Linked DNA regions of Homo sapiens. The protein of the gene in region 1 purifies or fractionates together with the protein of each later gene. This does not show direct contact. Each region holds a gene or a part of one and is shown in the gene's direction. Other genes may lie near its edges.

Evidence for each region.
Region 2: the proteins of GRHL1 (region 1) and KIF2C purify together in Homo sapiens (co-immunoprecipitation; one large-scale study listed by IntAct). This does not show direct contact.
Region 3: the proteins of GRHL1 (region 1) and SSBP1 purify together in Homo sapiens (co-immunoprecipitation; one large-scale study listed by IntAct). This does not show direct contact.
Region 4: the proteins of GRHL1 (region 1) and HIC1 purify together in Homo sapiens (co-immunoprecipitation; one large-scale study listed by IntAct). This does not show direct contact.

What each region holds. Positions count from the first base shown.
Region 1 is NC_000002.12:9,954,431-9,958,358, forward strand, and holds part of GRHL1 (grainyhead-like protein 1 homolog), read left to right. Parts: intron 1-484; coding exon 485-671; intron 672-3,928. UniProt on the Homo sapiens protein: Transcription factor involved in epithelial development. Binds directly to the consensus DNA sequence 5'-AACCGGTT-3'.
Region 2 is NC_000001.11:44,745,976-44,749,903, forward strand, and holds part of KIF2C (kinesin-like protein KIF2C), read left to right. Parts: intron 1-418; exon of another isoform or gene 419-781; coding exon of another isoform or gene 782-784; intron 785-1,408; coding exon 1,409-1,510; intron 1,511-1,676; coding exon 1,677-1,725; intron 1,726-3,928. UniProt on the Homo sapiens protein: In complex with KIF18B, constitutes the major microtubule plus-end depolymerizing activity in mitotic cells. Regulates the turnover of microtubules at the kinetochore and functions in chromosome segregation during mitosis.
Region 3 is NC_000007.14:141,744,497-141,748,424, forward strand, and holds part of SSBP1 (single-stranded DNA-binding protein, mitochondrial precursor), read left to right. Parts: intron 1-999; coding exon 1,000-1,088; coding exon of another isoform or gene 1,089-1,165; exon of another isoform or gene 1,166-2,841; intron 2,842-3,928.
Region 4 is NC_000017.11:2,060,561-2,063,808, forward strand, and holds the end of HIC1 (hypermethylated in cancer 1 protein), read left to right. Parts: 3' UTR 1-931; coding exon of another isoform or gene 932-1,062; 3' UTR 1,063-2,681; downstream 2,682-3,248. Other genes in the region: SMG6 (telomerase-binding protein EST1A), read right to left, coding at 932-1,062. UniProt on the Homo sapiens protein: Transcriptional repressor. Recognizes and binds to the consensus sequence '5-[CG]NG[CG]GGGCA[CA]CC-3'. May act as a tumor suppressor. Involved in development of head, face, limbs and ventral body wall.

The sequences.
Region 1 (3,928 bases):
CCCACTGTGTTCAGGTAGGAATTTTTAAGGCATGGCAGCCACAGTAGAAAGAGGGAATAACATGTAGCAGTGTGATGAACGGCACACGCTCTTCTCAAGAGGGGACAGTCCTGATTGTGTGTTGGAAGAGAACAAGTATTCTCTTTTCTTTACTGTGTCCTTGTGTTTGTTTATGGAAAGTATTTGAATAGCCTGGCATTTTCTCGGGGATGGTTTTGTTTCGCTTTTTTGCCAAATAGTATACCCTGGGTTCCACGTGTAGGTGAACTGCCAGTTCTCTGGCTGCCTAGATACTTTATGTCTTACTGTGGGACCCATTGGTCTGCACTTACGTGGTTTGTCTTCTGGTCTTGTCTTAATTTGACTTCCTAGGGTCATTGATGAAACAATAGGCTATTTTATAGGAATGTCAAGGAATTGGTAGCTTATGATACCTTGCAGTAGAAAAGTGTGTGTTTTTGTTTTTTTTTTAATTTCTCTGAAGCAAACGGCCAGTGTTGGTTCTTCAGAATGAAGCACTTTATCCACAGCGGCGGTCCTACACTAGTGAGGATGAGGCCTGGAAATCCTTCCTGGAAAACCCTCTCACTGCAGCGACCAAAGCGATGATGAGCATCAATGGAGATGAAGACAGCGCCGCTGCGCTGGGCCTGCTCTATGACTACTACAAGGTGGGTTTGCCTGCCTTTAAAACCCTTAACAGCAGTCTCCAATGCACTTGATTCAGCAGCATAGAAACAGACATTTGCTGGTAGAATGCCATGCAAGTTGCTTCTGTAGTGACTATAAATAGTTTAATGAGTACTTTGACTTACTGTGATTCGAAGCTAAAAATCTGTGATTGTAGAATCAAAGGGTTGTTTTTAAAACATGCAAAGCGGTCAGCTGCTGTGGCTCTATCCAGAAGGTGAAGCTACCGTAAAAGAAGATGCTAGATGTGCCTTCTTGGGTTTGAGCATCTCACTGAAGGTGGTTCTTAGTGCCATGGAAAGTGGGCAGGGGTCATTTACCTTTTCACCTTTGTTCCTGGGTAGTCAGGATGATTTCCTTTCCCTAAATGATACTACAGAGCCTTTGAAATCATATTCTGTAGTCTAGGACTGTCCAGTTCCAAGATCAGGATATGTTTTGTTGCCTGTTTCTAGAGATTTGGAGTACTCTTAATTAAATATAATCTATACTCTGCATGGAATTTTACATGATTTTCATTATCTGGAAGTGACACTACTGATTTGTCTCATCATCATTGTCCTGATAACACTAGCTGCCACTATTATGCTAGACATGTTACCAGCCTGCGTGCGACTTCTCACTCAGAGGTCACAGCTAGGATGTGTGCATCTGGGGCCCTAGTCTGGTCCATGGCCGAGGCCACTGTCTTTCTAATGCAGCGTGCATACCGCTCTCCTTCTGGATTCACCTCTCCATTCTTCCTTCTGACCAGAAACACACATTTGGGGGTGGCTACGTCTTTAGGGTGCTACTTAAAACAGCAGACTGAGTTGAAGCACAGCTTTGCCACAGGGCCTTTGTCTCATTGTCACTCTGTGTGACTAACCTGTGTAATCATTGTGTTGTCATCAGTACCTGTATAAAAACAGGATCTGTTTGGGATTACCAGAAGCTTCTTAATGACAGTGTCTTCTCATGAATGTAGTGTATATTTTTTACAGTTTATTTTTGCTATCTTTTTGTTTTAAAAACTTTCAAACCTGCATAAAACTTAAAATAAGAGGATAATTAATTCCTGAATACCTTTACCCAGAATCGCCAGTTGCTAGCCATTGGCTACATTCTGGCACTGTATTCTTTCCTTAATACAAGAAATACAGAGGTGAAAGAAGCCTAGGAGATAGTTTTATTATTAAAATTAGGGTGATTAGCCTGAGCAACATGATGAGGCCCTGTCTCTACCAAAAATAAATAAATAAAAAAATACAGAAATTAGCCGGTTAGTACACATGCCTATAGTCTCAGCTACTTAGGAGGCTGAGGTGGGAGGATCACTTAAGCCTGGGAGTTGGAGGCTGCAGTGAGCTGAGATCATGCCATATCACTACACTCCAGCCTGGGTGACAGAGACAGACCCTATCTCAAAAAAAAAAAATGGGGTGATTATTTCCTAGTATGAGGCCATGCGTCTAACTAAGTTGGGGCTGAGGGATTGAGGTAAGCTCTTTTTTCTTTGAATATGAGCAGAAACTTGTGTAATAACTAATGATGCTAGAAGAAACTCTTACCAGGGAAACATAGCCATGAAGAGTTCCTTTGAAGTGGAAATTATTATATATCTGTTCTTATAGCTTGTTTTATTGACTTACTATAAATTAAGTTCCTAAAACATTAATTATGAAGTTACATATTTTTAACTGAAACTTTTGAGAATGGGAGAAACTCGTTGGTACAAGTTTTGTGCCAGAAAGGCCCGTGTGATAACACTAGGTGTACTACTCCTGCGTCTCAGAAGCATGTAAATCCTCATGTCTGTCCATGAAGGGTGACAATTTTAGTGGTACTTACTTGTCAGACTTCTTGTGATAGGTGTAAATTTATTTTCTTCTTCTTCTTCTTCTTTTTTTTTTTTTTAATAGAAGCAGAGTCTCGCTCTTGCCCACGCTGAAGTGTGGTGGTGCAGTCATAGCTCACTGCAACCTCAACCTCCTGGGGTTGACTGATTCTCCTGCCTCAGCTTCCTGAGTAACTAGGATTATAGGTCATGCCTGGCTAATTTTAAAATTTTTTGTAGAGAGGAGTCTCACTATGTTGCCCAGGCTGGTCTCAAATTCCTGGCCTCAGGTAATCTTCCTGCCTTAGCCTCCCAAAGTATTAGGATTACGGACGTGAGCCACTGTGCCTGGCCTATTTTCTTTTTCAAATAAACTGAATTATTTGTTTCAGGTCTTTGGCTGTATAAGCATCAGTCATTATTACATAATAATTTTGATAAAGCTTGAAAAGCATATTGTTAATACATGAAGCAGTATTTTTTTTTTTTTTGATACAGAGTCTCGCTCTGTCGCCCAGGCTGGAGTGCAGTGGCGCAGTCTCAACTTACTGCAGCCTCTGCCTCCTGGGTTCAAGCAATTCTCCTGCCTCAGCCTCCCGAGTAGCTAGGACTGCAGGCGTGTGCCACCATGCCCAGCTAATTTTTTGTGTTTTTAGTAGAGACGGGGTTTTAACATGTTGGCCAGGATGGTCTCGATCTCTTGACCTTGTGATCCACCCGCCTCGGCCTCCCAAAGTGCTGGGATTACAGGCGTGAGCCACCGCGCCTGGCCAGCAGTGTTTTGTCTTTAATGGTGAAAACAAGGATGCAGGAATAGAATTTTCACGCTGAAAGCCATTTTTAAGCACCTTAGCCATTTTGGAGTGCGCAATGGGGTTAAATCTCAGTTGAGTTATTTCTACAGGACACTCACTAACATTTGCCTACTTTTCACTTCCCTTGCAAAGAAAAGAACCAAAAAAGGAATAGAACACTGAGTTAGACTTGTCCTTTGGGTGATGGACGTATGAATCCCAGCGTATCTAAAGACAGTGATCATATGAAGCCCTCATTTGGATCTTAGAAGAAATGAAGGGTTAACATGGCTGTTCCTTCTGCTTTTGCATTTGATCTGAATGGAGGGTGGTAGGAAAGAGCACTGAGAAAGTTGGAAGAGCTCCGTTGTGTTTTCAGTAGCTTCTTCTCTAATGTTGTGTAGATAAACGAGTAAAACCAGGGCAGAGGTATTTCTTTTTTTCTTTTTTTTTTTTTTTTTGAGTCAGGAAGGGTCTTGCTCTATCGCCCAGGCCAGAGTGCAGTGGCGCAATCTCTGCTCACTGTAACCTCTGCCTCCGGGCTGAAGCGATCTTCTCACCGCAGTCTCTCTTGTGTAGCTGAGACTACAGGCACATGCTACCACGCCTGGCTAATTTTAAAATTTTT
Region 2 (3,928 bases), on another chromosome or scaffold:
ACGCCATTCTCCTGCCTCAGGCTCCTGAGTAGCTGGGATTACAGGTGCACGCTGCCACACCCAGCCAACTTTTTGTATTTTAGTAGAGACAGGGGTTTCACCGTGTTGCCCAGGCTGGCCTTGAACTCCTGAGGTCAGGTAATCCGCCCACCTCGGCCTCCCAAAGTGCTGGGGTTACAGGCGTGAGCCACCGCACCCAGTCCTGCAGGTTTCATCTCTAGGCAGTAAAGCCCTCACCCTAGAGTACATGCTTCAGCTCTGTCACATTTTGAAATACAAAGTTGGGACAAATTTAATATGTCTGAACCTGTTGTAAAGCTATCCTGGTGAAGTTTGAGTTGTTCCTGGAGAATTGCAGGACTCTGATGATGTAAACTTAGAATTGTGACCTCATTGCAGGCATCAACAGGAAATAGGTAAGGCATGGGCAGGAAGCCGTAACTGGGGAAGTTTCTGGGCCCAGAAGAAAATGTAGGTAGTCTTAGGGTTAGGTAGCAGCTGTCAGGAACTTGCCCCTGCCCATAAGATCCTAAAGGGCCCCCATTTGACTCTCACCAGACAGTTAGAACTTGTTTCCTCCTCCGTGTCAGCCATCAAGAGGTGCTTGGGGGGCTGTGCCCAGCAGGACCTCACTGCCCAGCAGATCAGCAGGGGAGCCAAGTGGCCTAGATCTGCTGTGGAGTACCCGACTGTTTGCCTGCCTGTCTGCCCTCCTCTTCACCTCATTCTCATCACTGACGTCTACCATTGGCTTGGAAATCAGAAACCCATATCCATCTAGATGGTAAACCATTATTAAGGAGTAACTATTTGTTTTATAGCTATTCATACTTAGTGGAACTTAAAGTTGGTAAAGTTTGAATTTAGGGGTACCCCTGTCTATAGAAATTTAATTTTTTCTATGTTGTTTTTTTGTTTGTTTGTTTGTTTTTTGTTTTTTGAGACAGAGTCTTGCTCTGTTGCCCAGGCTGGAGGGCAGTGGCTCAATCTCAGCTCAATGCAACCTCCGCCTCCTGGATTCCAGCAATTCTCCCGCCTCAGCCTCGGGGGGGCCAGGCACAGTGGCTCACACCTGTAATCCCAGCACTTTAGGAGGCCGAGGTGGGGAGATCACCTGAGGCCAGGAGTTTGAGACCATCCTGGCCAACATGGTGAAACCCTGTCTCTACTGGAAATACAAAAATTAGCTGGGCGTGGTGGCGCATGCCTGTAGTCCCAGCTACTCAGGAGGCTGAGGCAGGAGAATTGCTTGGACCCAGGAGGCAGAGGTTGCATTGAACCAAGATCGCACCACTGCCCTCCAGCCTGGGCGACAGAGCGATACTCTGTCTCAAAAAAAAAAAAAAAGAAAAAATGTATTTGGATTGAACAATGTTGTTTCATTGAAACTTTTACTTGCTCCTTGCAGATTGATTTTGATGATGTGGCTGCAATAAACCCAGAACTCTTACAGCTTCTTCCCTTACATCCGAAGGACAATCTGCCCTTGCAGGAAAATGTAACAATCCAGGTAGGTGCCTGTCATCTGGCTGCAGCCAGTGCGCCAGAGAATTCACTTTGCTTATTGACTCTTTGCTGATTGATTGTCTGGCATTTTAGCATAGTACATGGGCCCAGGATGGGCCCTTGAGAATTGATAAGAGCCATATATTGTGACAATTTGATTTGTTTTTCAGAAACAAAAACGGAGATCCGTCAACTCCAAAATTCCTGCTCCAAAAGAAAGTAAGTGGATTTCTACTAGCTTACTATCATGGAATTTGTGTCAGGAATTATGTTTCTAGGACTCAGAGTTGTGGAAGCTCCTCTTTTGCAGGTGGTTTCTATGTGGGTTGAGTCCTGCCTGTGTTCCAAGCATCTTTCTCTATGAGAAAGAATCCAATCTACAGCTATCAGGCCAACCTTTAAGAGACCTGGTGCATTTAGGAAATTTGCTGCCTGGCCTAGAAACCTTTTCTGTAGAATCCAGAGCCTGATGCTGAGGAGAGTAGGAATCAGCCATTGGTAGGCCTTTTTTCTTCCCTCGGGGCTCAGCCCCCTCAGTGGAACAGTATGCCTTGGAAAGAGATTTTGAAAATGGGAGACACTAGGCCTGTGGGTTGTTTAGAAGTACAGTTGGTGGCGCTATAGAGAGGGATGGCTGGGGCTGGAGAGAATAACAGCATTGCCTCGTGGTCTAGGAGGTTGGGAGTCTCTCTGCAGAAGTAGTCTGTGAAAACCTACTTTGACAACATGATAGACTGTGACTCTAGGGGGTAAGCTTCCCAAAAGATCCAGCTTAAAGCCAGTTGTACCTTGAAGGCTGGTGACCTGCACAGCTCTCCAGGTCTAGGGGTCATCATTGCCCTGAAATGATTCAGCTACCTCAGGGACTCACAGAATACTTGGCTGGAGCTTCAGGTTCTGGGGGCCCTGAGTGGAAGGTGGTGCCATTGCAAGCTTGGGCCTGACTATTGTGGTGCTGGCCCTTTCTTGCTGGGTGTACCGTAAGGTCATGCAGGAGAGTTGGGACTCGCAGCAGTCCCATTCCGTGTTCATGTCCTCAAAGGATATTGCCCCAGCTTTGTTTTGTTTTGTTTTTCAAAGGCAGGGTCTCACTTGGTTGTCCATGCTGGAATACCATGATATGATCGTAGCTCACTGTAGCCTTGAACTCTTGGGCTCAGGCAATCCTCCCACCTCAGCCTCCCATGTAGCTGGGACTACAGGTGTGCCCCATCACACCTGGCTAATTTTTTTTTTTTTTTTTTTTGTAGAGACAAGGTCTCACTATGTTGCCTGGGCTGGTCTCAAACTCCTGGCCTCAAGTGATCCTCCTGCTTCAGCCTCCTAAAGTGCTAGGATTGCAGGCGCGAGCCACCATGCCCAGCCAATAGCTTTTTTTCTTTAGGATGGAGTCTCGCTTTGTTGCCTAAGCTGGTCTTGAACTCCTAGCTTCAAGCAGTCCTCCTGCCTCAGCCTCCCAAAGTGCTGGGACTACAGGCACACACCACCATGCCCAGCTACACAGCTCATTTTAATGGAAAAAAAAATCTTTAAGGCCCTGAGCAGTAGCTCATGCCTGTAATCCCAGCACTTTGAGGGGCCAAGGTGGGCAGATCACCTGAGGTCAGGAGTTCCAAGCCAGCCTGGTCAACATGGTGAAACCCTGTCTCTATTCAAAATACAAAAAACTGGCCGGGTGTGGTGGCTCACACCTGTAATCCCAGCATTTTAGGAGGCCAAGGCGGGTGGATCACCTGAGGTCAGGAGTTCAAGACTAGCCTGGCCAACATGGTGAAACCCCTGTCTCTACTAAAAATACAAAAATTAGCCAGGCGTGGTGGTGGGTGCCTGTAATCCCAGCTACTCAGGAAGCTGAGGCAGGAGAATCGTTTGAGCCCGGGGGGGCAGAGGTTGCAGTGAGCCGAGATCATGCCACTGTACTCCAGCCTGGGTGACAGAGTGAGACTCGGTCTCAAAAAAACAAAGAAAAAAAATTACAGATCATTTGGGGCTAGATGTGATGGCTCACACCTGTAAGCCCAGTGCTTTGGGATGTTGAGGCAGGAAGATGGCTTGAACCTAGGAGTTTGAGACCAGCCTGGGCAATATAGCAAGACTCAGTCTTATTATAAAAATAAAAAATAAAATAAAATCATTAGGGAAATAGGACGATTGTAAAAATTCAAAACATGGATTATATATAGCCATCAGCCTGAACTTATAATACTCAGAAACTGGGTAGAAGTTGGTTTTGGCAGAGGTTGCAGTGAGCCAAGATCATGCCACTGCACTCCAGCCTGGGTGGCAGTGTGAGACTCTGTCTCTCAAAAAAGATGGGCTGGGCACGGTGGTTCACACCTGTAATCCCAGCACTTTGGGAGGCCGAGGCGGGTGGATCACAAGGTCAAGAGATTGAGACCATGCTGGCCAACATGGTGAAACC
Region 3 (3,928 bases), on another chromosome or scaffold:
GGCTTGGATTGAGTATGTATAAAAAGTATGTTTTCCAAACTCATAGAAGGACAAAACGGTGTGTGTAACAGCAGTTGTATTGATAGTTAATATGTTTAGAAATGTACTTGTTTTGTAGAAAGAAAACATATTTTATGAAAAATAATTTAGCAATCACTAAAATTTTTCTTTTCAATAACTGTATAGCTTTTCTTCCTATGTATCTTCATTGCCCTTTATGTATGTTTATGAATATGTGCACATACACACACAAACACATATAAGGTATTTCAAGGGAAGTGTCTGCACTCCCACTTACTGATTGATGGGTGTGTGTGTGGGGTGGGGAGCACCTGATGTTTCACTAATCTTTCTGTGTTGTACTTTTTTGGTGGTGGTAGACTCTCAAAACTGGTACTATTGTCATCTTTCCACTCTTGAAAATCACGATTAGGTTTGTTATCTAGTTTAGCCTCTAGATAGTGTAGAAATAGTCTTAGTAATTACCTCTAAGTGGTATACTAAGCTGATACAGTGTAGAAATAGTCTTAGTAATTAACTCAGGGTAATATTATACTAAACTAACTACAAATCCATATTTTGAATTTTAATCATCTAAGTTTCTAAGGTCATAGAAAATAATTGATAAATAAGTGAAAATCAAGTCTGTTAGGGACTCCAAAATCAAAGGTCAAGGAAAATGATACATTGGAAATTATTCCTAGAGATTTAAATGTTGCCACTAAATTTCCCTTTGAACTGTTTTGTTTTATTTTTTAACTTCCGTAAGAGAAATAGCTGACAGATGAAAACATTGTCTGTTTTACCTAGATGTTACCAAGTCTGTTTGGACACTCTGTTTCAGTACTCCTAATCCTGAACCTTGAGAAGTGGTAGCAAAAATTAGCTTATATATGATTATATATTTCATCCTTGTCATATACTCAGTACCACCCTGACCTGACTCTTATAAAGCATATTAAGATCTCAACTAAAAACTGTACATTTTATTTATATCAGGTCTCGAATTTATTTGGAAGGGAAAATAGACTATGGTGAATACATGGATAAAAATAATGTGAGGCGACAAGCAACAACAATCATAGCTGGTAAGAAGCTTGTGAAAATAGCTGTTTTTTTCTTTTTCTCCTTTTCTTTTTTAAAAGCTTGGCTACACTGTAACTAACTAGGGTTAAGAGTACCAGTACTTATGAGTTAAGGCAACTCACTAGAAGATGTCCATAACTCTTATTTCTCTACTTGCTAAGAGTTTGTACATTTATCCCTTCCTTTAAAAAATTATTTTTATACTTACAGTTTTAGTCACAAGTAACTTTTGAATAAAGCCTAAAACTGAATTATCCATCCCAGTACTTATTGTTGAGAATTACAAAAACTCTGAATGTATTGTCTTTTGGAAGGATCTAGCCCTAACCAGGAAGAAGCGTATGCCAAGATAAGAATTACACTAATGTGAGTGTGCAGATTTATTCGGAACCTCTTTGGTACTTAGTATGTGAAATTTCTATTTGAAATTAAGATTTTTTTAATTTTATTTTTTTTGAGCCAGAATCTCACTCTGTCACCCAGGCTGGAGTGCAATGGCACAATCTCGGCTCATTGCAACCTCTGTCTCCTGGATTCAAGTGATTCTCCTGCCTCAGCCTCCTGAGTAGCTAGGATTATAGGTGCGTGCCACACCACCTGGCTAATTTTTGTAATTTTCGTAGAGGCGGGGTTTCACCATGTTGGTCAGGCTGGTCTTGAACTCCTGACCTCAGGTGATCCATCCACCTCGGCCTCCCAAAGTTGTGAGATTACAGGCATGAGCCACTGTGCCCAGCCAAGAAGTTTTTAATTTTCTCTTTTTTTGTTTTTGTTTTGAGACAGGGTCTCCCTCTGTCAACCAGGCTGGAGTGCAATGGTGTGATCACAGCTTACTGCAGCCTCTACCTCCCCAGGCTCAGGTGATCTTCCCACCTCAGCCTTCTCCCAAGTAGCTGGGACAACAGGTGTACACCATCATGCCTGGCTAATTTGTCAATTTTTTTGTAGAGATGAGGTTTCACCATGTTGCCCAGGCTGGTCTCAAACTGCTGGGCTCAAATGATCCTCCCACCTTAGCCTCCCCAAATACTGGAATTACAGGCATGAGCCATTATGCCCGGCCTAATATTCTCTTTAAACAAAATACAGTACAACATAGAAAAGATGTACACGTAAAGGTTAAAGAAGATTAAGAAGATATCCCTTAGGAAAGAGTTTTTAAACTTTTGAAAATGCTATAAGAATTTTGAAAATAATATACCCCTCTGGATGTCTGCAAGCGACATTAAGAAATTTTTTTCAATACAAAATTGTGTTATTTTTAAATGTATCAATGGAATCTAAATAGCATAGCAATGTGATACCTACTATCCTGTAAAAAAATACCAGTTCAGCATTTGGAAATTTTCCATTATTCTTTTTTCTTTGAACTTGTTTTACTGTTTTTATTTTCCCCTCAGAAGTGTATCTTAATAGTATATGGTATAGTTAAGAACTTTTTATTACCCTGTTTGTAACAAAAATGCATGCATAAAAGAAACTTTAAAATATTTAAAAGAATTCTATGACAAATTCTTCTCAATTGACTTATCATTAAAGTTGTTTTTAGTACCTAATTGATCAAAACAATTTTAATGTATTTAAATTATATTGGAAATATGTCTTTAAATGAGATAGATGGTGCTTTTTTCACTTCTTGAGTAAATTGCTAAAATTAGACATTGTGAATTTTGTGCTTTTGTTTGCTTTTATGGACATAAATACTAAGAAAGCTTTTTAAAATAAATACATGGCAATAAACTAAATTTTACTATATTAATGTTTCTGTGTTTATGAACTTCTGAGATATGCCCAAATTAGATTTTTTTTTTTTTTTTTTTTTTTTGAGACAGCGTCTCACTCTGTTGCCCCGGCTAGAGTACAGTGACACGATCCTGGCTCACTGCAACCTTCGCCTCCCGGGTTCAAGCGATTCTCCTGCCTCAGCCTCCTGAGTAGCTGGGACTACAGGCACGCGCCACCACGCCCAGCTAATTTTTGTATTTGTAGTAGAGATGGGGTTTCACCATATTGGCCAGGCTGGTCTCGAACTCCTGACCTCGTGATCTGCCCACTTCAGCCTCCCAAAGTGCTGGGATTACAGGCGTGAGCCACCGTGCCCGGCTAGATAATATTTTTTAAAAATTGATTTTTGGGCTGGATGCAGTGGCTCACGCCTGTAATCCCAGGCCTTTGGGAGGCTGAGGTGGGTGGATCATTTGAAGTCAAGAGTTCAAGACCAGCCTGGGAACATGGTGAAACCCTGTCTCTACACAAAATGCAAAAAGTAGCCGGGTCTAGTAATGCGTGTCTGTAGTCCCAGCTACTCAGGAGGCTGAGTCATGAGAATTGCTTGAACCCAGGAGGCAGTGTTTGTAGCGAATTGAGATCACACCACTGCACTCCAGCCTGGGCAATAGAGGAAGACTCTCTCAAAAAAAAAAAAAAAAAAAAAATTTTTTTTTTTTTACTATGGAAAATGTCAAACATGTATAAGAGCAGAAAAAATGGTAAAATGAACTCCTACCATTTCGCTTCAGTGTCAGCTGATGGACAGTGTTATATCCATGCCTCCAGCGACTTGACCTACACCTGGATTATTTTGAAACAGATTCTAGACATAAGTTTATTCATAAATTTCCATAGGGATCTCTAAAAGATAAGGTGTCTTTTTGAAAATGTAACTACCGTGCTATTATCACACCTAATATTAATAAATTACTGTTAATTTTTTTACTAAATATCGTAGTGTTCAAATTTCCTTGATAACTTCATAAACATTCATACATTATATTACATGATTTCTACCTTAAGTCTCTTAGATTTGCCTTTTATCTTTCTTCTTTCCTTTGCTCCAGAGTTC
Region 4 (3,248 bases), on another chromosome or scaffold:
AAGGGGATCAGGGAGGTGAAAAGGATCAACTAGAAGGGGAAGAAGGGTGAGGGGCTATTCTGGAGGGAGGGTAGGCGGGCAAGGAGGGGTGAAGGGGGAGCTGAGGGGAGTCAGGACATTTCCTGAAGAGGAAGCTAGACGGAAAGAAAGGCCAGTGAGGAGAGAGGGAGCAGGTGGAGGCCACCCGAGAGCACGGGCCTGAGACCAGATGCCCCTTTCCTCTAGACTCATGACTGTCCACGGGGACGCAACTGGCGAAGTGTGAGGGACCCAGGTTGATAAGGGCAGGAAGAGGAGCAGCAGGAAGGGTGTGTGGTAAGTCTGGGGTGGATGGTAGAAGAGGTGGGGGCCCAGGGCTGCTGTTAGGGACATGCTGTCTAGAAGCCGACTTGGGTTCATGGGCGAGTCCAGGCCTCAGGGAGACTGGGGACACACACCCTGGGCACTTCTTCCTGACTTAACCAAAGCCTCTTGAACACATTCACGACAGAGGTTCTGAAGATGAAAGGGAACTGTGATTTCACTGCATCTGACGGAAACTCAGAACCCCTGCCCTGTCTCCACTGGAGAAAGTGGCTGCGTCCCCAGGCGAGAAGGCCCTCCCTCAGCCTTGGAATGAGACGGGGGAGGGAGAAAGGCTGAGAGCATGGGCGGCCTATCTGGCTTGCCCAGCTGCTGTTGCTGTAGCCAGCCACCTCCCTGCTAAATCCTGGCAGCCCAGGAGGGTCCCAGCAGCTTCCGCCCGATCCTTGGGAGGGGCTCTGTGAGGAGCAGGTCCCCCACAGCATGGCCGTGGCGTGGGTTGGAAGAGGATGGTTTATTGTCTGGGTGGATTGGTGGCTCAGGCACGTGGGCATCTTCCGTGCTACACTGGGCGCCTGGTGGCCTTTCAGGAACGGTTCCACGGGGGGGGGGCCCCAGTGTGGCTCCCTCAGCCCACCTGGGCCCACGTGAGGAAGGCTGGGATGTCCCGTACAGGAACATTCCTTGTGAGCGCCTTCACACGCAGGTTCCGGTCATCCGTCAACAGCACCACCTCCCGCAGTAGCCGGATTGGCTCCTCTGTGGGCATGAGAGAGCAGAAGGCTGTCACTGAGGACAGGAGGCAGAGGGCTGGCTGCTCTTCTCACCCTGGAGAATGTGGTCCTGGGGAGGGGGTGCCACGCTAGCCGTGTCTTGGCTCTTCTACCAGTCCTTTCCTCCGTCCGGGCTCTCAGCCCCGGGGACCCTCCCCTGCTGGCCTAGAGAGGGCTGCACTGGGCTTCTGCCTTGACTCCGGCCTCCCATACAGGACTCTCTTCTGCCTAGTTCCCAAAAGCTGCCCAAACCCGTCAGCCTCCCAGGACCCTAAACTGAGGGAATAGAAGCAGCCCCTTGACCTCTACTCCTTTTTACCACATGGCTGGCCCCCAGATCACAACACCGCTCTCCCCACACCCCACTTTTTTTTTTTTAACAAGTCCTCTCCCTCTAAAAGCCAGCAGGTTGAAGCTTTACGCATCCAGAGGCAGAAAACTAAAGATGGAACAGAAAATGTATCCAGGGTTTTCCAGATGTGGGGAGAGGGGTTAAGGGAGCCCTGAGGAGAGGAGAGGGTAAGGGTCTTGGCAGAATTGTGCCAAGGGCACACCAAGGCTTTGGCCAACCGGTCGCCCCTGCTAAGTAACAGTAATCCATGTATACAGGCGAAAGTCTCTAAGAGGACAGAAGAGTAAAAAGGAAGAGTAGAGTTAAGATGATGATCCCAGTTCTCCGTCTTGTACCCCAGGGAAGACCTGTGTATCCTTCCAGGTTTCTTTAGGCACATTTACAAGTACATACACTTGGACATATAACCTTTTTTTCCTACAGCATCATGATCATATTAGCCACACTTTCAGAGTATATACTTAAAAGGTCTTGCTATAGTGGCACAGATATCTTTCATTCTTTTTAGATGACTTTTTTTTTTTTTAAGCACAGTCTCTCCACTACCTCTCTTTCCCTAACTCCCTAATCTTTAACACATTGGAGAGAATTTAAGCCAGGGACAAGCACTCACACAAGTGACATCCCTACCCTGACAGGCCTGCTTGGGTGGCAGGTCTACTCGTCAGTCCCAGGCTGGGCATTTCCTGACAGAGGTCCAGGTCCGGCAGACAGCAAGGCACAGGAAGTGTCCTGCTGTGCTCACTGACTGCGTGGGCTGGCGGGGGTGGGGGGCTGCAAATATCCATGTCGGACCTGAGCAGTCTCAGGCTTGCCAGCTCCAGGCAGGGAGGCTGAGAACTGGCTTTCAGCCTGGGGAGGAGTTTGGAGGATTCGGGAGGGAGAGGTTTGTGGGGTTGGTGGTGGCGAGAGAAGAGGACAGGAGGAAGGAGAGTGTGAAGGGAGGCAAGGGGCTGTGGGCAGAGGGGAAAGGAAGGTGGCCTCGGGTGAGGGGATACTCAGAGACTACTCAGCTGCCTGGGCCAGGCCCCTCTGCAGATAAGTGTGGCTGGGGTGGTGGTATGCAGGGCTGTGTGGGGCTCCCAGCTGACTGGCTGCGTCTGTAGCAGCCCCACTATTCCTGCCCTGGGCCTCAAACCAGGAGCGTCCCAGGCCTTAGGTCAGCTAACCAAGGCCCGACATTGCTGGCAGGGGTCTGCAGGGGTTTCTGTGGATACTTTGACATTTTTCACAATAAACATCCTCTGTTTTGACACTGGTAACTTCACTTTGTTAGAAACCAGAGACTGTCATCTTGTCAGGCCCCATCCGCCATAATCCACATGATTTTAAAATTCAACATCGTTTACACATAAACATTTAGTGACGGTTTCTCTGTGAATCTGACAAGTTAATCTGCTAAGAATTCACACTGACAAATGGGCTTTGATTACACCAGCCATTGCTGATGTCATTCTGATAGGGGCGGTCCCCCGGATGGCAATGGGTTCCTGTAGGCTGTTTGGGGTGAAGTCGGGGGTGGGAGGACTAGTAGGACCAAAGCCAAAATGTGTCCGTTCTGAGAAAGAAAGTTCTGAGGCTGGGGTGGGGCCCAGCAGTCCTGGAACCACACTTCCCAACAAGGCCTTCAGCAATCCCGCCTACCTTTCTCTCAGGAGGTACCCCTCTAGGAAGCTCAGGCTTGCCAGCTCCAGGCAGGGAGGCTGAGAACTGGCTTTCAGCCTGGGGAGGAGTTTGGAGGATTTGGGAGGGAGAGGCTTGTGGGGTTGGTGGTGGCGAGAGAAGACGACAGGAGGAAGGAGAGTGTGAAGGGAGGCAAG